Linked DNA regions of Homo sapiens: all the other regions are linked to region 1. The links come from fine-mapping of genetic effects on gene expression. A gene starts in region 1. Each other region holds a variant in brackets. All regions are shown on one strand. Distances are between the middles of the regions.

Evidence for each region. PIP is the estimated chance that this variant, and not a neighbour inherited with it, causes the effect.
Region 2: its variant is fine-mapped to the expression of RNASEH2B in whole blood (INTERVAL, PIP 0.96).
Region 3: its variant is fine-mapped to the expression of RNASEH2B in whole blood (INTERVAL, PIP 0.97).

The regions. Positions count from the first base shown.
Region 1 is chr13:50,905,363-50,913,547 of GRCh38, forward strand. RNASEH2B (ribonuclease H2 subunit B) reads left to right here and starts at 4,429. Exons shown (of 11, transcript NM_024570.4): 1 at 4,429-4,778. The coding sequence starts at 4,715. It overlaps RNASEH2B-AS1 (RNASEH2B antisense RNA 1), which reads right to left and starts at 5,350. Exons shown (of 3, transcript NR_046552.1): 1 at 5,121-5,350. RefSeq lists silencers at 4,244-4,673, 4,684-4,923, 5,134-5,183.
Region 2 is chr13:50,931,397-50,939,581 of GRCh38, forward strand. It overlaps RNASEH2B (ribonuclease H2 subunit B), which reads left to right. Exons shown (of 11, transcript NM_024570.4): 5 at 3,489-3,603. Among named protein-coding and RNA genes, the nearest start is that of RNASEH2B-AS1, 25 kb to the left of the region's middle. The variant T/G (reference allele first, on the strand shown) is at 3,435.
Region 3 is chr13:50,945,759-50,953,943 of GRCh38, forward strand. It overlaps RNASEH2B (ribonuclease H2 subunit B), which reads left to right. Exons shown (of 11, transcript NM_024570.4): 8 at 2,229-2,310; 9 at 3,705-3,747; 10 at 8,147-8,185. Among named protein-coding and RNA genes, the nearest start is that of RNASEH2B-AS1, 39 kb to the left of the region's middle. The variant A/G (reference allele first, on the strand shown) is at 5,132.

The DNA.
Region 1 (8,185 bases):
CCCAGGCATGGGGACACCAGGGAGGGAAGGAAGGTGAAGAGCCCAGTCTCTGGAGTCCTAAGGCCTGGGTTGGAATTCCTGCTCAGCCACTTGCTAGTCATGTCATCATAGGCAGGTACTTGATCTCTCTCGACTCTACATTCTTCCTCTGTAAAATGTGGGTGACTAAATAATACTTACCCTTAATGCTGTGGGAGGGCTGAAAGAGGTCATTCGAGTTAACTGCTTAGTGCAGTGCTCAGCATAGTTAATACTCAGTGAAGCCATTGTTATTTTTTGACAAGATAGTGGTGAATTACTAGATGCTATTCTTCCCTCAAGGAACTGACTGGTTCCTCTCACTGGTGAAATTGGAGGCATCTCACTTATTCTTGGGAAGAGTATTAGGAGGCAGGAAGAGAAGGCACTTAGTAAGACCTGATGGATGAGTGAGAGTTGTCCTGGCAGTGGTAAAGGGTAAGGGAGAAGGGAAGGAATGATGCTTGTGGAGAACAGGATGGTCTCAGCATTGGGGACACAATACCAAGTGCTAGATGTGACAGAGAAGAGAACCACAGGCAGTTCCTTGTGGCCACACTGTGGACTGGGTGGAGAGCGACATAGGTGGTGGGAACTGTAGCTGGGGAGTCCAGCCAGGACCGGATCTCAAGGGCCATGTGTTCAAAGCTTAGCACCTTAGACTTTACCTTGAAGACAACAGGGATCTGGAGTCAGCCTATCAGTAATGGTATCCTTTTCAAAAAGGTACTTACATAATTTTTTTTAATGATAAAGGAAATTATTTACAGAAAGGGCAGAGTTCATTGTTTTCTCATTCACAGAGTATAGCAACCGTTACCCGTACGAGCCTGGGCCTCTCATTTAATTTCTCCTGCCCCTCATTCCTTACCCATGCTTTCTCCCATTCCTCTCCATATTAAAGACACCCATATTTTATTTAAGTCCCAGAGTATATGTGCAGGATGTGCAGGTTTGTTCCATAGGTAAACGTGTGCCATGGCAGTTTGCTTCACCTATCACCCCATCACCTAAGCATTAAACTCAGTATGCATTAGCTCTTTTCTCTAATGATCTCCTCCCCGACCACCCTCCGCTTACAGGCCCCAGTGTGTGTTGTTCCCCTCCCTGTGTCCATGTGTTCTCATTGTTCAGCTCCCACTTATAAGTTAGAACATGCGGTGTTTGGTTTTCTGCGTCTGCATTCGTTTGCTGAGGATAATGACCTCCAGCTTCATCCATGTCTCTGCAAAGTACATGATCTCATTCCTTTTTATGGCTGCATGGTATTCTGTGGTGTATGTGTACATTTTCTTTATCCAGTCTATCATCGATGGGCATTTGGGTTGATTCCATGTCTTTGCTATTGTGAATAGTGCTGCAATGAACATACACATGCATGTATCTTTATAATAAAATGATTTATATTCCTTTAGGTATATACCCAGTAATGGGATCGCTGAGTCAAATGGTATTTCCAGCTCTAAATCTTTGAGGAATCACCACACTGTCTTCCACAATGGTTGAACTAATTTACATTCCCACCAACAGTGTAAAAGAGTTCCTATTTCTCCCCAGTCTTGCCAGTATCTGTTGTTTCTTTTTTTTTTTTTTTTTTTTTGAGACGGAGTTTTGCTCTCGTTGCCCAGGCTGGAGTGCAATAGCGCGATCTTGGCTCACTGCAACCTCTGCCTCCCAGGTTCAAGCAATTCTCCTGCCTCAGCCTCCCGAGTAGCTGGGATTACAGACACGCACCAACACGCCTGGCTAATATTTTTTGTATTTTTAGTAGAGATGGGGTTTCTCCATGTTGGTCAGGCTGGTCTTGAACTCCTGACCTCAGGTGATCCGCCCACCTCGGCCTCCCAAAGTGCTGGGATTACAGGCGTGATCCACCGTGCCCGGCCTCATCTGTTGTTTCTTGACTTTTTAATAACCACCATTTTGACTGCCATGAGATGGTATATCATTGTGGTTTTGATTTCCATTTCTCTAATGATCAGTGATGTTGAACTTTTTTCATATGTTTGTTGGCCACATGTATGTAAAGACACCCATTTCTTTATGTGCTTGACATGGCCTTAAATATGCATGTATCCTTGTAAATTACATCGTGTTGTTCTTTGTGCCTTTTAAATTTACCTACATGGTATTCTGCTAAAAATAATTTCCTGCATCTAAATTTTTTTCTTTAGATACAAAGCATCTGTTTGTATATGTACACCAATCACTGTGTCAAACTGCTGTATACATAGCCCATATACAATACACATGGTAGCATTATTTATAATAACAGTTTGAAATAACCTAAATACTGCACACTAGGGAATGGATAACTAACCCTAGTACACCAGCTGTGTTAAATATCATGCCTTCATTAACAATGATACTTCTCGATATGAAGGGGCACATGCTTATGACAATGTTAAGTGAGAAAAGCAGACAAAACAGTCTAAATTGTGACAACAACCACAAAAATATACATTAATACAGCCAAGGGCTAGAAAGGATCAGAGAAAAATGAAACAGGTATGTATGTCTGAGCAAGGGAATCATGGGTAACATTTCTCATGTACAGTAGCTCCCCCTATTCGAAGTTTCGCTTTCCAAGGTGTCAGTTACCCCCAGTCGAACTTGGTCCAAAAATATTACACGAAAAATTCCAGAAACAATTCGTAAGTTTTAAATTGTACAGTGTTCTGAGTGGTGTGAAGAAATCTTGCACCATCCAGCTTCGTCCTGCAAAGGACCTGAATTCTACCTTTGTCCAGCGGATCCACACTGCAGAAGGTCCCCTCCTTATGAGTCACTTAGTAGCTGCAAGAGTAGTGATGCTGGCATACTGTGAGAATTGTTCTATTTTATTATTATTGTTGTTCATCTCTTACTGGGCCTAATTTTCAAATTAAACTTTATCACAGATATACATGCAAAGGAAAAAACAGTATATTAGGGTTTGGTACTATTTGCGGTTTTAGGCCTTCACTGGGGGTTTTGGATCCCATCCTACAGGAATAATGGGGTGCTCCTGTAGCTGTTAGTAAGACGATGGTGTGCCTGGGGATTTGTGCTATACACCACAGCATCTTCTACAGTCGTTTTGGGGGAGAGGGAAGATCAGAGCAGTACCAATCTGCTGCTCCTTGCCCCAAAACTGGCAAGAGGCGCCTTTCCTCAGCCAGAAAGGCCTCTTCTCCACCAGCTGTGTCCTGCAATCAACTGCAGCTGTATTGGTCTCACCCCATGGGAAACAGGTTTGAAGTTAAAAACCTTTTCAGAGGGCCGAGATAAATTTAGTGCTGCTAAATTTAACTATCTTCAAGATTAAACATGAAAAGCAAAGTGCATGAGTTATGTATATTATTCTTTCAATTGTGCAAAAATAAGACATTAACTTGTTTTTGCATGGAAAAATTCTGCAAGAATAGAGAAGAAATGTTAACAGTTACCCCTGGGATCTGGGATAAAAGAGATACATCATGCTTTTCTTTAAAAAAAAAAAAAATAGGTTTTTGTGGATTTTTTTGTTTTTGTTTTTTTTGACAGAGTCCAGCTCTGTAGCCCAGGCCAGAGTGCAGTGGTGGGATCTCGGTTCACTGCAACCTCCATCTCCTGGGTTCAAGTGATTCTTGTGCCTCAGCCTCCGTAGTAGCTGGGATTACAGATGTGCACCACCACACCCAGCTAATTTTTGTATTTTCAGTAGAGACGGAGTTTCACCTTGTTGGTCAGGCTGGTCTCCAGCTCCTGACCTCAGGCGATCCGCCCGCCTCGGCCTCCCAAAGTGCTGGGATTACAGGCCTGAGCCACTGCGCCTGGCCCGTGCTTTTCTCTAAAGTATGAAAGGAATATGTACTTTCTTCTTAAAAACCATGTACCAAACAACACTTTTCAATTAAAATGTTATTTTTAAAAGTTTAAATCCCCAAATTTCATGGCTCTAACTTTTTAAACATCACTTTTTAAATAAATGTCTAAGTTTTTAACTCAGTATACAGCGTTCTCCAAAACAACAAATTCATATTCTGAGCCCAAAACTGTGCACCTCTTTTAGTGATGAGGACGGAGTCCAAATTGAGGACATCCCTTGTAGCTCACAATGCACACATATTCTCACATCAATAGCAACACAGAATGCAACTGATGACCAATATATATTCACAAATAATTGAGGACCATGGCTAAGAGTTGCATTCGGATTCCGATGTGACTGCTATTGTCCTTAACACGGACTAGCTCCAGGTGAGTCCCCCGGCCCCGGGGGTGTGGCGGGCGTCACCCGTTGTCCGGGCACACACCCCGCAGACCCAATCCTAGCCCGCTGGCTAGACCATGGAGGGCCGCTGGGTGCAGCCACAGAGCGCGGGGCCCCGGCGACCCCGCCCCGCTCCGCGTCACTCGGCGCCCTGCGGCGCGCGATGAGCACCTACCACTAGCGGAGCCGCGAGGGAGAGGCCGCGGCCCCTTCCCGTTGCCTGCGGCCACCGGCCGGCATTCAGAGCCCCTCGCCTGGCGCTAAATTTAAAAACGTAACACGAGCAGCAGGCTGGTCTCGGAAACGAAACGAAATTCGGTCCCTGGGCCTCCTCCCGGGCGCTGCCGGTCCCTCAGCGCGCCGCGCCACCCGGAACAGACCCTTCTCCCGCCATTTTCGGCGGGGCTGGGAGACTGAGGCCCGCGGCGCTGAGCCTGCGGCGCCCCGGAAGAGGCGGGCGGCATGGCCGCTGGCGTGGACTGCGGGGACGGGGTTGGCGCCCGGCAGCACGTGTTCCTGGTTTCAGGTAAACACGCGCGCCCGGGCGGCGGGGTCGGCCCAAGAACTGGCGGAGCGGCCCGCGACCCCGGGCGCGCCGCCCCCCACCCCGGTGGCTCCCACTACCCGGCCCGGCGCGGGATGGGATTCTCTCTGGGACAGCTGGCCCCGCATTTTGGTCACACGTCATAGCAAGCCGCGGTTTTCAAACCCGGAAGCGCCGAAAAGGACCGAGCGTGTTTCCCGGGCCCTGATCCCCGGTGGCTCGGGTGGGAGGGTGGAAGCCGACTCAGCCTGAGGGGAGCCACGCGGGTTCGCGGTCACCGGTGCGCTGCGGGCCCCGGAGGTTTCTGCCCTTGGTGTCCCCTACCTGGCAGCTGGCCCTGCTTCTGTGATCCTACTGGGTTGGAACCAGGGATCCAGTAGGCTCGAAGTGGCCTCAGACGGTGCGCAGTTTTAAGAAAGCAAAGGGACAGGCCTGCAGTGGCGAGGCAGGAGGGAAGCGGGATGGGAGTCGCGGTTAGGCCAAGGGTAGTTCAAAGCGATTCAGCAGGATGATGACCACAGGAGTGCTGGAGCCGGGCCTTTCAGCCCCCGTGTGGATGATGACCGGCCATCCAGGACATGCGAGGGCTTGGGACAGTGGACAGCCAGTGCCACACAAGGAAGGACCGATTAAATGACACAGTTAAAGGAATTTGGCCTAGGGAGTGCAAGCCAGAAAGGTTTGGTCTTTTTATATATGTAACATTGGAAAAAAGGAACATCTCCTGTTCCCTGTATTAAGTTTTGACTTTAGCTCAGCAAATGCAGTGTTTGTGGCAGTAAATATACTCTGATAACAATATTCTTTCCCAGGAATTTAGAGTTTTATGATGGTTATTGAAAATGTTTACATGACAGGCTGTCAATAATATTTTTTGCCTCTAAAAATAAAACATACATAAAGTGTACGGATTTTAAGTATGCAACTCACTGAACTTTTCATACGTATACACCACCCTAGTAACCATCCCCCAGTTCAAGATGTAGACTGTTTCCAATAACGCCTCATGCCTGTTCCTAGATAGCCCCAGGAACCTCTATGCTGACCTCTGTCACCAGAGATTAGTTTTGCCTGTTTGAATAAGAGTGTACCCTTTGTGTCTGGCTTCTTTCACTCTGAAAGATTCATCCTTGTTGTGAAATTCATTCATGTTGTAGCAGTTGTTTGGTTGGTTGGTTAGTTTTTTCATTGCTGCTTCTGTTTAATTGTATGAGTATCCATACTATGTATCTCTACTGTGGATGGACATTTGGGTTGTTTCCAGTTTGCAACTATTACAAGTTACACTTCTCAGAGCATTCCTTTAGGCGGCTTTTGGTAGACATGGGCACTCATATCTCTAGGGTGTATACCCTGGAGTGGAATGGCTGGTTCTAGTACTTGTGTGTAGAGCTGTAGTTGACAATGTTAAATGGTTTTCCAAAGTGGTTATACTGATTTATATTCCCACAAGCAGTGTATGAGAGTTCCCATTGCTGCACATCCTCGGTAAAAACGTTTGGGTGGTAAAACAGCTAATGCAAAATTCAGGGTTTTGACAGAATCTCGCAAAGGGCTACCCGTATACATGCTTTTCATTAGAAAAATCATCCTTTCTTCTCACTTCGTCACATCAAGACAATTAGATTTTCAGAGTAGGAACTCTAATCATTCTTTCAGAATCAAGTGCATTATTGTTATTTCAGATATACACAATAGCTGATGATAATTTGAGCTTCTTATTTTGTTGTTCTGTTTAATCAGTATTGACATCGTCATTTTATACGTGTGTTTGTGTCCTTGTATTAAACACAAAACCCTCAAAAGAATTAAATATTGATTGTATCCCTGAAAATTGTAGGTTTTAATATATCTACTGCTGGGTTGTGGGAAGAGTTTCAGTTGAGTTTCTGTTCAGAGCTGAGATCTACTGTGACCTTTTAAGGCATTGGGGGAGGCTGAGCAGCTGTTGGAACTGCTAGAAAGAGCTGTGTGGTCAGGGGGGCAGGAACTCTTAACAGTTAAAAACTTGAGCTACCAGCTCCTGCAATTCTTCCTTCTGGCCTTTAGCGCCACCTGCAGGCTCTGAGGGTACAACAAGGTTTGACAGCGACTGCAGTGCAACACTAGTTCTCAAACTTGAGGGCATCATTTACCTGGGGAGCTGGGCCTCAGTTCCCAGAGGTGCTGGTTCAGTAGGTCCTGGGCTGGGGCCAGAGAATGTGCATTGGTAACAAGTTCCCAAGAGATACTGATGCTGCTGGTCCGGAAACCACTGCCCCCACCCCAGGAACCACTGCAGTAAAGACTTTGGGAACTAGATTGGGATATAAGAATGACAAGCCTCATGTTTGGCCCTCTTTGTGGTGGGCCAGAATTTATATGGTCAAGGAAGTGCATGTAAGTGCAGAGTGTGAGGCTCATCTTCCCAGATGTAGTTGTCGTCTTTTCCAGAAGATGAGAAATCAGCCTGCTTAGTTACCCATTCGGGAGTTGGAAACGATATGCCCTTGGCTGAGGGAGCACCATACTCCAGTAAAGCTGGGCCCTTAATAAAGAAAACAAAGATTATTAAACATTTTTCAAAAGTATTTGGCGGAGGCGGCTTGTATTCGGTTTTAGAAAACTTGGGATCTGAAGAACTTACTTTGTGTACTGAAAAGTGAGCACATGAACCCACAGGCCAACAGAACTTTAAAGGGATTTATCCGTGAGACAAGGGTAAAGATGCCTAACCTTGCAATGATACTTTTTTCCAACATTTAATTCATGCTGTTCATCGAGTTGCCTGCCACAGCACTGTGTTATATCTTGAAGGATATATTTAAATGTTTGATTTAGGTATCTTTGCCTCTAGTTTTCAGTTTGTTTGGAGAAGCTGGCTATCTCAGATAAACAAATCTGGAACTTGGAAGAGATACTGTGAGATATGCAGACTTGGGACGTTGGTTTTCATAGGCTGGTGAAGACAGAACCATTTCCCATTTCAGCAAGGCAAGCATTTCTTTTAGTTTGGGATGGTCTTAAATGTTTCTGTAAAATGGCCTGGGAATACTAGCCTGTTTGCAGTTTTAATTTCTATAAGAGGCCATTACTTTACTTTTTGGAAAGTAGTATAAGTTTCCATCCCTCTTTTTCTGCCCTAAAAGTAAATGTTTGAGTCATATTTTTAATGTTTTTCTTAAGTCCATTTTTCTTGTTAATGCTACTAAGTTGGGATGTACCCAGGTGTGAGAGGTCACCTGATTCATTGCGTTTAGAAGACTGCATTTATTGCTGTTGGGGGCTGAACAATTAATTGGGTTCATCTCCAAGGAAATGTTAATTGGGAAACCCTAACATTGTGTATTGAAAAAAAAAAAAAGAAGAAAAATCATTTCAGGCCTGTTAAAACAAAACTCATTTGGGTT
Region 2 (8,185 bases), 26 kb after region 1:
AAAACTGAGAGATTTAAAAATTATTTATTTAAAAGTTAAAAATAATAAGGCCATTACATGTTAACATAAATAACACATTTTTATTGAAACAAACAACCAAATTTAATGAGGCGTGTGGCATTGTTTTACATTTTTGCAAATCTCTTTAGTGTTTGGCTTAACTAGAAGACAACTGGATTCTTATATCTGATTCTGCATTCAGTCTGTTTCCATATGTTATTTTGGTAGGATTATATGAAAAATATGCGGCCCCATACATCTTTGTAGTTAGAAAAGGAAGAAATAATGTTACAGCCTTTTTAGATTATTGTGGATATTCTTCTTTAATACTGCCTAAAAAATCAACAAGTAGTTTTTTAAAGTTTAGTTGCAATGTGAAATGTGAAACTTTGTCAGTTAACTTTCTATGCTCTGTTACATTAAAATGCATTGGTCTATCTTGCACTTAAAATGGATCTTTTTACCAGTGTATGATTTTGTAACATCATGCTTTGGTCATTTGGAAAATATTGATTTGCTGAGTTATGCATATCTTCCAAATGTTGACACATCTCATTTTACACACACACACACACACACACACACACTCCCTTTTGTTAATATTACCACTGATCTCATCAGAAAGCTCTTTAGGTATTGAGAAGCTGTCATAGTGGCAGATAGAAATTTTCTACAATTCTAATTTTTGCTTGAAAGCTCAAATTTTATTATTGGCCGCAAATATTGTCAATCTTTCCCGTGAAATGACAGGCTCACTTCGTTCATATTCTGCCTAATACCGGGGTCTGAATCACCGTAATTCATAGTGGGTTTTTCAAATAAAAATGATATCCATGAAAAAGCAGCTGGTTCTGCTTGCAACTCAGCCAGCCCCAGGAGAACATGCTCTTCCTGGTAATCAGCTTATCTTTGGTTAAGCAGCCAAAGGCCTTTAGCCATACCTCACTTTCATCACAGATAATTTACAAGACTTGTGTTCAAGGGCCAAGATTTAAGTAAAATTAATTGCTTTTACTACTTGCTCAAGGATATTCTTAAGTGAAACTGGCATTTTTTAAACTGCACATAAATGGCGGTGAGGATCCAAATGATGACTAGGACAGTCTGGTGCCACCACCAGACTCGTGCTAAAGAGCCAGCAGTTTTACCCACCATTGCATTTGAATCATCTGTGCAGATGTCCACACAGTGAAAATGCAGATAGCGTCTTAGCAGTATTAGGAAAATAGCTTTGAGCTTAGGTACTTCATGACCCAGGGATCCATCAACCATAGTTGGAAAATCTTTTAATTAATAACTTTGAGTGATAAGTGTCACTCAAACAGCTTAGAAGAATCTGGTTTTTTTGGACTCTCATGTTTGCATAAAGTTTGAACACTTATAAATTTCTTACTTAATCCTTAGATCAAATTCCTGAAACCTCCATTTGGTAGGTAAATTAATTTAAGTTGCTGTAAATACTGAAAGTCATAAAGTATCAATGCATGTTTTCTCTTGATGCAGCTTAGCCTCTTTTAGCCTCCTCCTTCCCTGCCCTCCGCCCTTCACTGTGAATTAGTGAAGTTTTATCCCTTCGTTTAATCATGTGTCCCATTATCTGGAAGCTACTGTGATGGCCGGTATAACGAGGGCACACAAGCTGTGAGGCTGGTAAGCCTCGTGTCTTTAAGGAACAGAAATGGTCCTAATCACCACCAGGAACGCCCTGGGGAATATTCAGGGAGGAATTTGTAAACCTCAGTGGCTCACCTATGTGGTGTTTTCTAGGATAAATTAATGAGCAGAAAGACACCAACCAGCCTCAGCAAATGTATTGATCTGCACTTAAGGCTCCCCCTCCCCTTTTTGATAGCATTTCTCCATCTCCCATTAGGACCATGACTCTGGGGGATTAACCCTGTCTTGGCACTCTGGGCACCTCCAGGGTGCTATGGCGAGCTCACGTTGACAAGTGCAGAATGAAGCAGAAATGCTGTTCAGGGTGGCCTTTGGCTTTCATTTTAAACCGTCGTACTTCCCAAACACGTCTTCCCAAGTGCCAAAAATGCCCTTTAAAGTAACATTTGAGATGTTTAGGTATTTCCTTCTCTACATTTTAGACATGATCATTTCCTATTTAGTTAAAAATTATTGATACACACTTTTGAAATGTGACCTGTTCTTTTAAACTTTATTTTAACATCAGTAAAAATAACTTTTTTTCTAGGTATCCCACTGCTACTAGCTTTATAGTCAAGGCAGGTTGCTTATTGCATTTCCTTCAATGTATATATGGTAAATAAAAATAAGAATGAAACACTAGTTAATTACAAAATTATTTTATATCATGATTGTATGGTAGTCCATTACATATAAATATTGTTTTAGAGTAGTCAAATATTTAAGATATTGATTGATCATGGAAGACTATAGATTTAAGGTAGAAATCTAAAGACAGTAAGACTTGGGAAAAATCTGTGCATTATTCTTACTATTTGAAGGAAAAAGAACATTTAAATTGAGATAGTTCATGGCACTAGTTAACCTAAGAGAAAGTATGGCAAGCTATCACGTGTTCTTAAATGATTGAGAAGATTTTACCCTTAAAACCCAAGAAAGCTGCATTTGCAGAAATTGATCAGATGCAGTTTTTGTGTCTTCAGGAGGAGTTGTCAGTACACGAGAGGTAGAGCGAGCTAGAAGTGGGTCATGGGCAAGGCCATACATCTGGTACAGTCTGGTGTCCCCAAATCAGGGGGCTAATACCTTAATTTAGACAAACTTCACCTCTACTTGCTACTAGTACAGTTACGAAAAACTAGACCTAATTCCAAAGAATGATGTTGTGAATCCATATGGTCTGCACTTCTGGCCCACTGGCAACCAGGCCATATAAACTTCTGTGGCTGAGCCTGATTTAGCCTGTCTGCAGCTTCCCATGACTTCTCCCTCTGGCTGTCTTTTCTTTTATTCTGGTCTAAATTTGGAAGCATTGTGAGGCAGCTTTGACAGGGGTAGATTCACTTTTGTATTTTCTTTTTGTGGCGGGTGCTTCTTTCATCATCCCTAGAGTGATGATGGGGAGGCAGATGTATGTCTGGGCCTGGTCTGGGCTTGTTCCAATGTGACAGTCAGGACTCTTGCTCTGTGACCACAGCTGGTTCTTCAAATTGAATGGGTTGGACCATCCCCAGGCAGTCTCCACCATCTTTGCAAGCTTCTGTGGCTTCCAGTGCTTTTGTAGATTGATTTTCTTCCCCATTTCATTTGGGGACTGTACACCCAAGGTAGATGGTGTGCTGTGTGGGACTCCAGTGCTCACAGGAGCTTCCTGAAGGGAGCTGGGGTCCGTCCTAGAGCCTGTCCCATTGTAGGGATTCCTTAGATGGAATAGGTGGCTTCTGCACTAAGTTTAAAGGCCCAGCCATGAGTTAATGTGTCTTTTTCTCTTTTTT[T/G]CTGAATGTCTTTGTTGAATGAAATGCTTGCTTTCCAACTAACTGTTTTTTCAGGGGAAGTTTCAGCCCCTTGATCAAGTTGTGGTGGATAACGTGTTTCCAAATTGCATCTTGTTGCTGAAACTTCCTGGACTTGAGAAGTTACTTCATCATGTGACAGAGGAAAAAGGTATGGTATAACTTAAAGGCTTATGGCTGGTAGAAAGGATGGACCTTGCCTAAGAACGTGGCTGCTTACAGACACACTGAATGTAAGGCTTATTCTGTGTCCACCATAGGGAAAACTATCATTCAGATTTGCTAACACTGCCAGCACTGTTCCTCTATTGCTTTGGAGTGTTTAGTCTTTGGAACTACAACCATGGCAGTCTAGGGCCTACGTCCACAGGGCAGGAATCACAAGGTGTGGCTTCAGTCTCACTTCTTCTTTGAACTAGTTCTGTGACATCAGGCAAGTCACTCAGCTGCCTTCTGCCTCAGATGTCTCATTGTAAAATTACGTAAAACCTGTACCTTAATAGATGGAAGCATTTATCGAGCACCTTCCAAAAAGCATATGTTGCACATTAGTGCTAAGCTCTAGATACTTATGAATAAGACATTGTCCTTTTCTTCACTTTGCGCCCAGTCTGATGGGGGTCAATGACAAGCTGAGCAGTGACCGCACAGTGTAACGGAAGTGAACTCTGAATTTACTGGGGATGCACAGGACAGGTTTCTAATCTGGCGGGGTTGGGTGGGGAATGTAGGTGGGTAGATGTTGTGTTGCTTTCCTGGGGGAAATGACCTCTTTATGGAGTCCTGAAGGATAGTCAGAGAAGCAGTGTAACAGAGGCTCAGATGTATGGAAAAGTTTGTCAGGTTCAGGAAGTTCCAAGGAGTTCAAAGTATAGGATTCTGGGGAAGGATGTAGGTTGGTAAGGAATGAGGCGGGAATGCTGGGCATGGGTCCAGATGGTAAAGGGCCCTGTGTGTGTTTGGACTTTGCTTAATGGTAGTGGAGTGTCTGTGAAGTTTTAAGCATGGCAGTCTGCAGTGTGGAGAGTATATTGGAGAAGCCAGGTCCACCAAGGCTGTTGCAGTGATCCAGACAGGAGATAATGGTGGCCTTGATCTTAGGAGATAGAACAAGAAGAAAGTAGCCATTTAGAGATGGACCCAACTGCATCTGGTTGTTGGGTGGTGGTCAAGGAGAAGGAGGAGTCAAGAGTGACTTCTCGGTTTGTGCCTGACCCAAAGGATGTGTAGTGGTGGGATCCTGGACACAGGGAACATGGGCTGGAGGAGCAGGATAGGGTAATGAAGAGATGCGTTTTCACTATCATTCATTTAATTTTTCAGAGGGAAAAGTAAGGCAGTGTGTGTGAATGTGTTTTGACAGGTTAGAAATAGTATAAAAACTTGGCTTTGGTGTCTTAAAAAATCATCCAAGTAGTTTCAGGGTTAATATGGAAACAAAGTGTGGGAACCAGAGCATCAGGCTGATAAGTTGTGGCTGTTTGGGTCATAGATGGTTTGGCCAACTATGACAGTTCTTCTGGGACCAAGAAAGTGGTGATTCCAAGAAGTGTAAGCTTACAGTGGGAAAGAGAAGAACCTTATTGATTGCATTTTATGTTTAAGGGGTCCAGTAAATTCATACTTGGCCACACTTGGAGCTCCAGTTTGGAACTGAGGGGTATATGGTGCCAGGGTTTTATCAAAGCAGTTCCATTAAAGACATTCCCTGATGCTGAGTTTGGCAGAAGACAGCAGTCTTTTTGTGGGTGACCTGAATTAGCCCATAACCACTTTTAAAAGATAAAGTAATGAAGAATAATTTAATTAAGCCATGTTAATTTTTGTCAACTTAATGCAAGCTGAAAATGCAGTTAACTCATTGTCCAGAATTCTGCTATTAGCTGTATAAGAACAATCATCTTAAAACCCAGAAATCCAGATTTAGAAACAATGTTAGTGCCTCAGCATTTGTTTCCTTACAGTCTGCAGCCGAGAGCAAGAGGCTCTCTCTGTGTCATCCCTTCCCTCTTGTACACCGAACTCCTGACCATTTATTGCATCATTATCTGAACTTGTCTTAGTCTCCTTTGCTTCTCAATATTGCCTAACTTTTGGAAGTTCTGTACTTCCATTTTCAAAGTAGCTATATTATTAGCCTTTATATTTGCCAGATTTCAAAAACCCTAGGCCTCAATTTTTTTCTTTATTTTTAAGTGATGGGCAAAACATAAAATACTTTAGAATAAATTTCACACAGTAAAAGATGTATTCAATCTCTAGAGGTTTGGCAGTTTCTTTTTATCAAATTCTTCCCTTAATAAGCTGCAGCCTGTGAATCTCAAAATAATGGAAGTTTTAAAAACAGAAAGAAAAAGATTTTTATTTTTATTTTTTTATTTTTATTTTTTTAAGACAAGGTCTTGCTCTGTTGCCCAGGATGGAATGCAGTGGCACAATCACGGCTCACTGCAGCCTCAATCTCTGGGGCTCAAGCAATCTTCCTACCTCAGCCTCCTGAGTAGCTAAGACCACAGGCACAAGCCACCACACCTGGCTAATTTTTTCATTTTTTTTGGAGAGATGAGGGGGTCTCTCTATGTTACCCAAGCTGGTCTTGAACTCCTGGGCTCAAGGGAACCTCCCGCCTCAGCCTCCTAAAGTGCCGAGATTATAGGTGTGAGTCACCATGCCCATTCTCAAAAAGATTTTTAAATGGGGGGAAAAATACGTAAGATTCTCAAATGCCTCATCCTTAAGAAGATATTGGAAAATCAAATATCTAAAAATTAAATATATAAAACCTAAGCGGGCTTTATTGCAAGAATTCATAATTGGTTGAGCATTTACCATAATTTACCATATTTATGCATTACAAAATTGTATGATTATCTCAAAAGACACAGAAAAGGTATTTGATAAAATTCAGTCATGATATATATTATCAGCAAATGAAGAATAAAAGGGAACTTCCAAGGGCATCTATGGCAAACTTAAACAGCTAACATCATCTTCATTGTAAAAGACTGAACACAATCTTCCCCCAAGACTGGATACAAGAGAAGGATGCCTGCTCTTACCACTTCTATTCACCATGTGGTGGATGTCCTAGCATGTGCAATAAGACAAGAAAAAGACATACAGATTGGAAAGTCAGTAGTACAACTGTCTTTATTCATAGACAATATTGTCATGTATGAAAAAATCCAAAAGAATCTACAAAAGAAGTTACTAGAATTGATAAGCAAAGTTTCAGGATACAAGTTCAATATACAAATATTAGTTGTGTTTCTATATACTGACATTGAACAATTGGATAATGGAATAAAAACATACCATTTATACTACCATTAAAAATAACATTCTAGTGCTAAATGTAACACAATATGTTCAAGACCAATATGCTGAACATTACAAAATATTGCTGAGAGAAATTAAAGAAAAATTAAATAAATGGAGAAATAGGCCATGTTTGTGGATTGGAAGACTCAATATTTTTAAGGTATCTATTTTCCCCAAATTACACTATAATTACACTATATAATTACATTATAGATTCAGTGTAATACTTAGCCAGCTCCATTTTTTTTTCTTTTTTTTTGGTAGGTATTGATAAACTGATTCTAGAATTTATATGACTATGTAAAGCAGCAGAAGCAGCAGTCTCCAACCTAATTTTGGCAGCAGGAACTGGTTTTGAGGAAGACAATTTTTCCATGGATGGGGCAGGGAGGGGGATGGCTTTGGGGTGAAACTGTTCCACCTCAGATCATCAGGCATTCGATTCTCATAAGGAGCACACAACCTAGATCCCTCGCATGTGCAGTTGACAATAGGGTTCGCACTCCTATGAGAATCTAATGCCATCACTGTTCTGACAGGAGGCAGAGCTCAGCCAGTAATGCTCACTTGCCTGACACTCATTCCTGCTGTGTGGCCCAGTTCCTCACAGGCCATGGATTGGTACCAGTACATGGCTTAGGGACTGGGGAGCCCTGATGTAAAGGACCTATAATATTCAAAACAATTTTGAAAAAGAAGAATTTGGAGAACTTACACAAACTGAATTAAAGACTTACTATAATCAAGAAAATGTGGAGATCAGGCACAATGACTCATGCCTGTAATCCTAGCGGTTTGGGAGGCCGAAGCAGGAGGATTGCTTGAGGCTGAGAGTTCGAGAACAGCCTGAGCAAAGTAGCAAAACCCCATTTCTACAGAAAGTTTAAAAATTAGGCAGCTGTGGGCCAGGCACGGTGGCTCACGCCTGTAATCCCAGCACTTTGGGAGGCCAGCGCAGGTGGATCATGACGTCAGGAGATCGAAACCATCCTGGCTAACACGGTGAAACCCTGTCTCTACTAAAAAATACAAAGAACATTAGCCAGGTGTGGTGGTGGGCACCTGTAGTCCCAGCTACTCGGGAGGCTGAAGCAGGAGAATGGCATGAACCCAGGAGGCAGAGCTTGCAGTGAGCCAAGATCGCGCCACTGCCCTCCAGCCTGGGTGACAGAGCGAGACTCTGTTTCAAAAGAAAAAAAAATTAGCCAGCTGTGGTGGTATGTGCCTATAGTTCCAACTATTTGGGAGGCTGAGGAGGAAAGATCACTTGAGCCCAGGAGGTCGGGGTTACAGTGAACTGTGATCACACAATTGCACTCCAATTTGGGTAACAGAGTGAGACCCTGTCCCTAAATTTAAAAAATAAATAAAAATAAAATAAATTTGGTGTTGGTATAAGGATAAATATATAG
Region 3 (8,185 bases), 40 kb after region 1:
TTTCTTTTACATTGATAGTAGTAACAACCCTGGCTATCATTTATTGAGGGTGTATTGTGTGCCAGGCCCTTTGCTAAGTTGCCACTATACAAACATGATCTCATCCAACCCTCCCAGTAAATTTCATAATGAGCATCTTGAGGCCCTGTGCAAAGTCTCACAACTAGTAAATGCCAAAGCTGAGCTACTTATGGAGCTTGTCTCTGAAGCCCACACTTGTAATCTTTTTGTGATACTGTTCCTGTGGCACAGTTGTACTGTTCCAGTGGCTGCATCTGTTTGCATTTTCTTCTCAAGATGCATGTTTCCTGATACAGGGATCAATATATTTTGATTTTAGATGAAAATTGATTTACTTGGCAATTTTTCTTTTAGGTTATTCTTTTATAATCTAAAAAAGGTATATTATTTTCTTTTCCAAGTAGAGTCCTCTTATTTTTATATGTATAGTTGAATAAGAACAGCTATATAATGCAGTTAACAATCTCAAATGGTGAGACAGAAATTATTCTGACGTTAAACTCCAATTCATTGTTCCCTTATTCAGGGTATACATATGGCTTTAGTCATTACATAAATAAAAACTAGGAATAGTGGCCTGTTTGTGATTGATAGTAATTCAGGCAATCTGATTTGCAGGAATCTACCTTGCATGTATAGGTAGTTGGCTACTGCCATTCTGGGAGTGGTGGACAGCACCTTTGCCATACTGAGTTACCAGCTGTCAGTGTCTTTAATTGGCTTTAACAATAGAAGATGAGGGATTGAGATAGATGATTAATGGATAGATAGGTGGGTGGATAGATGCATCCATGGATGGATGGATGGAACCATAGATTTTGTTTTAAAAGTAGGAGAAGGGATGTTAGAGGTTATTTAGACAGATCATCTCATTTTTTAAATGGAGAGGTAGGTAACTTATCCTCAAGATCTTCTGTTCTAAGTCTAGTGCTTTTACCAGTACTCTACATATTAAGGTTCTGGGCTTGGCTATATTGCCATTTAGTGTCCTGACCATAAAGTAAACTTTACATATTTTACATTATTTCATTTTTTAGATATTTAGGTTGGTTTGGTACCAGAAGCAGCAAATGAACTATATGTTGACTTTCTTAAAATAGTTTTCTTGGTCTAGTCATGACTCATTGGATAATGACTATCCCAGATCCATGAGCAATTTTAAGAAGGGTCAAATGATAACTTTCAGTTCTCCATTGACAATGAAAATCTCTTACTGAAGACTTTTTGACATCAGGTGGTCCCCAGACGGCAGTCATTTTCTATGTAATACTGAGGCAAATTGTTACTTTGACTTGAGAGCAGAGGAGAATGGAAAAAAGGAAGTGAGTGAATATCCCAGCAGCAAACCTGGGGTCTGCTTTTGGTGCTTTATATCCCCACGTGGTTATCCCATCTTATGATTAAGTTTGATTATCTGCTTGTATTCTACATAAAATACTGAATTCAGGAACAGAGTTTTGAAACATTTTATTGTCTTCTTATGTAACTGTATTTCTAATTGCTGCCAGAGCTGCATTTTAGTACTGAGAATCCAAATGCTTTAGAATTAATGATGATAAATTCTGCTGAGTTAGTTGTTTAAGTTTAAGTATTTTATTAGTTTGGGAGTGTGTGTGTGTGTGTGTGTGTGTGTGTGTGTGTGTGTATGTAGAACTATGTATATAGAACAATATGTATGTATAGAACTATATATATATATTTCAGGGTTCTTATAAAGCAAATACCTAGTAGTAGAGACATGGTATTTTATTTCTCTTAAATGAGTACACTCATTACTGTTGAATAATTAGATTTATTCTTTATTGAAGCAGGCTTAGAAAAGATTACCCTTTTAAAAAAGACATGACTATTTCATATTGTTGTAGATGATTTTTAAACTTTATTTGTATTCAGTGGTTTCAAATAAGAAAGCAACCCTGAGTTTTTGTTTTTAATGTCATTTAGGGAGCATCTACTGTATTATACTTGTTTTATCTTATATCTTTGGTATCATCACATGTCATATCTCATCCCTCATATCTTCCCACTAGTCTGACCGATAGATATTACTATCCCCATTTTACAAATGAGAAAACTGAGGCTAGAGCTTAAGTGAGTTCCCTTTATCCAGATAGGGTCAGAATTTGAATTCAGGTCAATTTGACTATAAAACCACCATAATTACTATTTTTTTTTTTTGCTTTCACTCCTCCTTCTGTTTCTTTCAGAGGATTATATTCGTTATGCCCATGGTCTGATATCTGACTACATCCCTAAAGAATTAAGTGATGACTTATCTAAATACTTAAAGTGAGTATTGATTATCTTCAGTCATAATGAAGTACCATTTGCTTCTTGGTTTCCCCAGCAGTGGGGTTTCCTTATGGCTTATCATATCACTGTTTATGATACAAGATTATTCTTCAGCTATGTCATATACTTTGTGCTTTGGGGATGATTTTTAATGGATGATTGGAATGAACTGATTTGATGGATACGGATTGCAGGAACTAGTGAATGTCAAGATTGGAATTATGGCTTGGTCTGATTTTAGAGGATTAACTATGTTAAAATTTTATCCTCAATTATACTTAACTAATTTGGTTCTTTGTGATCGTTTTAAGAGGAAGAAAGGAGGGATGGAAAGAGTAGATGGAATATAGACTTTTTTTTAATTTACAAAATATTGATATCATTTTCACTATTATCACTAGATGTTCACTAAAGGGACTTTATGCCAAAGACTTGGAAGTCAAAGTAATATGAAACACAATCTGTGTCTTTGAGGGGCAGAAGAAGGGTTTTAAGAATGGTTTAATGTATGTTCCTTTCTTTATAAAGAGCTTATACATTTAGACTTTAAGTTGAAAAAGAAGTGTTAGAAGTGTTTATTTTCTAGATTTTTGCAAAATCGTTACTTAATTTTGTTGTTAAGATTTTATGTGTGTGATGATTTAATAGCTTTTCCTGATCCTTATAAATCCTTTTTATCCTCTGAGTCATGAAGATAAAATGACTTTTTAATAGATACAGTTGTTGGTTTTAGCAAATTCCAGAGGTCCTACTTTAAAAAACAATGATTGGAAACTGGTTTCTATAATAGTTAAAGTGTGCTGAAAGCCTGCTTCAAATTGATAATCATATCCTTCTGCTTAATATATCCCCAGATTTCTATGCTGCTTGTCTTGTTAGAGACCTCATGTCTTTGTACTCCATTGTTTGTATAGATTCCTTTCTTTCCACTAACATTTTTAAGTTTTGGTTGAAGAGTTCAGAAGAAAGGTATGCCAATTAAACTGCTTTCTAATGGAAGAAAAGTTGAAATTTATGTGGCTTTTTGTGAACAGTTAAAATGATTTTCACCTTTAAATATATGTTAGCATCTTCACTATGAAGAAAAAATACTCCAACACCGAAACACAAATTTATAGAGGCTAAAGAAAAGGAACTCTGTTCCAACAGATGGGTTCTAATTTTATTTTTTAGTTCAGACAACACCAAAACAAGGACTTACATATCAAAATAAAGACTCATTTATTGAGAAAACTTTCATTCTTTACACTGAGTTGATTGAACAGGAAGATATATGGAGGTAAAGCTGTAAGTTGAAAAGTAGGACTTACTAAGTCTTAAGTTGGCCCTGTCTTTCTGTTTGTTTGTCTATGAAAAACGATGACTTTGATTGTTATTTTTAACTTTCTTAGGCTTCCAGAACCTTCAGCCTCATTGCCAAATCCTCCATCAAAGGTAAGAAGCTGTGACTAAGATATCTTTGGGGGACTTAGAAAAATATTACACTCTTACCACATGAGTTTAGTTGGTTCTAATATATTTTAAGGTGTACTAAATCCATTTTGCATGGAGTGATGCCATGTGGAATAAAGATTGTACTGGGCTCTCCATCACTATTTTTTATTTTTGTGGATTCCACCTGAATGGTAAATAAAGTGCCATGAAAACCCAAGAAGAGTTGGTTTTAGCAAGGTACCCCTGTGAAAATATTAAAGACATATAGTTAAAATTAAATCTTCCTGCATTAGTTAGATCACTTAATTAAATTTAGTAATCACTAAGCATACTCTATATATAACTAAAACTCATTTTGCCAAATCTAATTGTCACTGGCACAAAGGTGAACAGAAAACAATTTCCATAATACAAAGAATCCTTTGAGCAAAGATGATCACTTTTTTTCTGAATTTGAAATGATTGATGAATTTACGTGTAATCTTTGTTAGTGGAAAATCTTTTCCTCATTCATTCTCAGGCTGCTACCCACAGCTCCTCTGCAGCTGGTATGTTTATCTCCTAGATCCAGAGAATGGAGAAGCCAATCATAAACCACACCTGACTGCAAATTGCAGCGTTCCTTCAGCCCAGGCCAGATCTCAGATGAGTTAAACTCTGCTCCAAGACAGGGAAATAAACATGTGCACCAGCTTGTCAGTGAGGTCATTTCTTCAGCCAGCAAAGTAACGGATGCCTTGAGAATGTAAAATGGACATATTGTGGATGTTACAAACTTTCCTTCTCCCTTGCATTGTTTTCTTGGCCTTCAAGGTAGCTAAAATGCTCATAATTTTTTATGTCATTCCCTGTATAAAGGTGGTGGTGGCTCCAAAGACATTGTCCTTAGAAAAGGACAGAAAATTGAAAGTACAGCAGTGTTTGTTTGGGCCTATGTTCAGCATGTTGTCAAAAAAAAATGCATGTTTTACTCTCTTGGAGAATAGCACTGGGCAGAAGTCTGTTGCTGTAAGATCTAAGGACTGCTCTAGGCCAGACCCATGCGTCTTTCATTCCGGTAGTTAATCTCTGACAGTAGCTCTAGAGGACCTAGAGAGGCACAGTTGTCTTGCTGAAACTAAGAGGGTAGGTTCTCAGCGTGCTTCTTATTTTTCTTCATCCAAAAATGAAGCAGATTTTTTTCTCCCAAATATCTATCTTCCTTAGTAACTTAGAGATCATTCATGAATTGATCTAAACCTATTCTTGAAAGCTTTAACCTTGGATACCTTTTGGAGTAATATGTTTCATAACTTTATTCTTCTCTGCTCCTGATTTCTGTTTTCTTATTTTAATTTTCAGAATTTAAGTTGTTTGTGACTTCATCATTTATGATTTAGATCAG[A/G]GATCAGCAAACCTTTTCTTCTAAAGCCAGACAGTAAATATTTTAGGCTCCATGAAGCAGATGGACTCTATTGCAGCTACTCAACTCTGCTGTTGTATTGTGAAAACAGCCACAGATAATACATAAACGAATGAGCATGGCTGTGTTCCAGTAAAACTTCATTTATAAAAGCAGGCAGCCAGCTGGATTTGGCCCCTGGGCCATCATTTGCCAAGCCCTGATTTTGATTTTGGCATCTTGCTCTTCCTAAACCCCAGCCTTGTCTTCTATATTATTTGAGTTGCTTTTCGAGGTCTTCTACTCTGTGTCTTTCTGGGGTTCCAGTGTACACATGACAAACTATACTAGACGATGTACCATCGTTTAAACAAGCGTAGAACATATCTTCTGCTAGCTTTCCTGTCTGTATCCAGGATTTGATTGATTTTTACAGTAATATAGTTGACTGTTTCCAGGAAATATATTCCAGTAGTCATTAGGTATCTTTGTATCTATGTTGTAATCGATAGCGTGGAGCCTGTCATCTTTAATATGTTTTATATTATTTTCCTTTACTATCATATGTCTGCCTTTGTTGAAACTCAGCTTCCAACCCTCACTTGCTCCAGTCTTTTCAATTTGTCACTGTCAGCAAGCAGAGTTGAATGCAACCAGTGGGTTTGGAGATGTTCCCGAGTTCCTTCTTGCAAATCATTTGTAAGAAGGCCTAACATTATCCCTGTGGTACTCTGCAGTTTGTTCTCTTTCCAGAACTGTATCCATTTAGTCATAGCCTTTGTTACTGTCTTTCTGAGCCACTTCTCTGCTGAAACAATCTCCCAAATCCATAGGGATTTGGTCTTTTAAATAACAAAAATTTTAGTAAATGCTTCAATCATCTTTTTTTCCAATATATTCAACAGTGCACTGGGAATAACATACAAACTAGTTATATGTAGAGGCTACCACAATCATTTTCTTTTTTTAAACACTTGTAACTGGTATCTTGTTTTGTTGTGAGCTATTAAAACACCTGAACAAGTCATTTCTCCAATTAAACATTTTATGTCCATACAAAAGTACCTTTCATCTTAAGTTCTTGTAATGAACACTTTTTATTTGAATTATCAATGAAAAGTGAACCTCATCAGTTCAGTGGCACACACTTGTAGTCTTAGCTACTCAGGAGGCTAAGGCAGAAGGTCGCTTGAGCCCAGGAGTTCAAGGCTGTAGTATATGATGATCGCAACTATGAATAGCCACCGCACTCCAGCCTGGGCAACACAGTGAAACCCTGTCTCTAAAGAAAAAAAGGGAATAATGTCTAAGTGTTTATAATGACATCTGTGTTAGGAACATTTTGCCATAGAGAAGGAACACAAGCATCCTCATAACTTCAAGCTTTTTGTGTTTTGAAAATATTTTGGCCTTCAGCATTATTAGCTGTGAGTTTCACCCTCCTAGCTGAAGATACCTTTCTAGTAAAAAATGTGCATCACCTAAACACCCTTTGCTGTCTTAATTTAAATAGAAACATGTATTTTTTTTTTTGAGACAGAGTCTTGCCGTGTCATCTAGGCTGGAGTGCAGTGGCACAATCTCAGCTTACTGCAGTCTCTGCTTCTCAGGTTCAAGCAATTCTTGTGCCTCAGTCTCCGGAGTAGCTGGGACTACAGGCACATGCCACCATGCGCAGCTAATTTTTATATTTTTATTAGAGATGGGGTTTTGCCATGTTGGCCAGGCTGATCTCCAACTCCTGGCCTCAAGTGACCGCCCACCTCGGCCTCCCAAAGTGCTGGGATTACAGGCATGAGTCACTGCACCAAGCTGAAACATATATTCTTAACAAAGTTGCAAATATACATTCACTTGGTGCTGATAGGTGGTTCATTTGTGATGGATTAGTCTTTTTCTTTTAATGATTCATTTGCTAGAGGTTGCTGTGTGGCCAAGAGGTTTTCCTATAGTGTGTGGTATATTCCCAGGATGAGCCTCTGTTTTTTTACAGCAAACAATTTTAAGACATGGTGTTTTATCCTCTTGGGTTATGGGATAAAACACCATGGGCTGTGGAATCTTTTAGCACCAACTCTACCCGTTCTTTGTTTAGCAAAGCAGGGGCATGAAGAATGAAGCTGGGAAGAAGTCTGTTTCCTAGGTTAGATCCATGTTGGGTCTGGTCAACCTGGTGTCTCCATAAACAGCCTGAAAATTATAAAAATCTGGGTTGTGATCACCATGCAGTCAATTCTCCATGTTCAACAGCAAGACTTGTCTTCCCTGCTTTTGTACCTTTTACATAATAAGTGTGGCATGATTTCTTCTATATTGTGATCATTAAGGCCTTGACAAGATTCTCACATTCACTGGTGTAAAATGTTCATGTGAAAGGAGAAAATATTAAGTAAAGGTCTGACTTAGTTGCATTGGGCCTAATGGAAAGAACACTGTATCAGAATTGAAATCTTGGCCAAAGTCCTCTACTTGGTGACCTTAAGCTATTCATTTAGCCTCTCTGTGCTTCCCTCTCTTACTGGCTGCTTGCTTGTGCAAGGTTGTTCTTGCATGGATAAAGTAAGATAAATATTGTCCCTTCATTCATAAGTGGACATTAAACTGGCCCAGGAGGTAAATGAAATAGGGATTCTGGCTGGACACCTGGCCCCCTTCAAGAGACTATTCTCATTTTGACTTCTGTGCCTTGCATTCATCTGGTAATTAGCAATCCCCTCATGCCCACCACACCTGGCACCTACAAAGCCTGTGTTTGCTGGACCAGCTAAGGGGCTCAGCCATGTACTTACCCAATCATATCCACCATCACCAAGGCTGCTTCTTAGGAGTGATGTGTGGCTCAATTCCCTAGATGATTGGCAAAATGTAAAGGAGCCTGTAAAAAGTAAGCCCTTTGCTGGGTCTGCTGTCCCATTCGCCTCTGTAGAGGTCTAAATTATACATGTTGGGTTTTTTTTTAATGGATTGATGTTGTGTCAAAGTGACATTTGACACCACTTCACTGCTCTAATGTTGCAGAAAATAAAGTTATCAGATGAGCCTGTAGAAGCAAAAGAA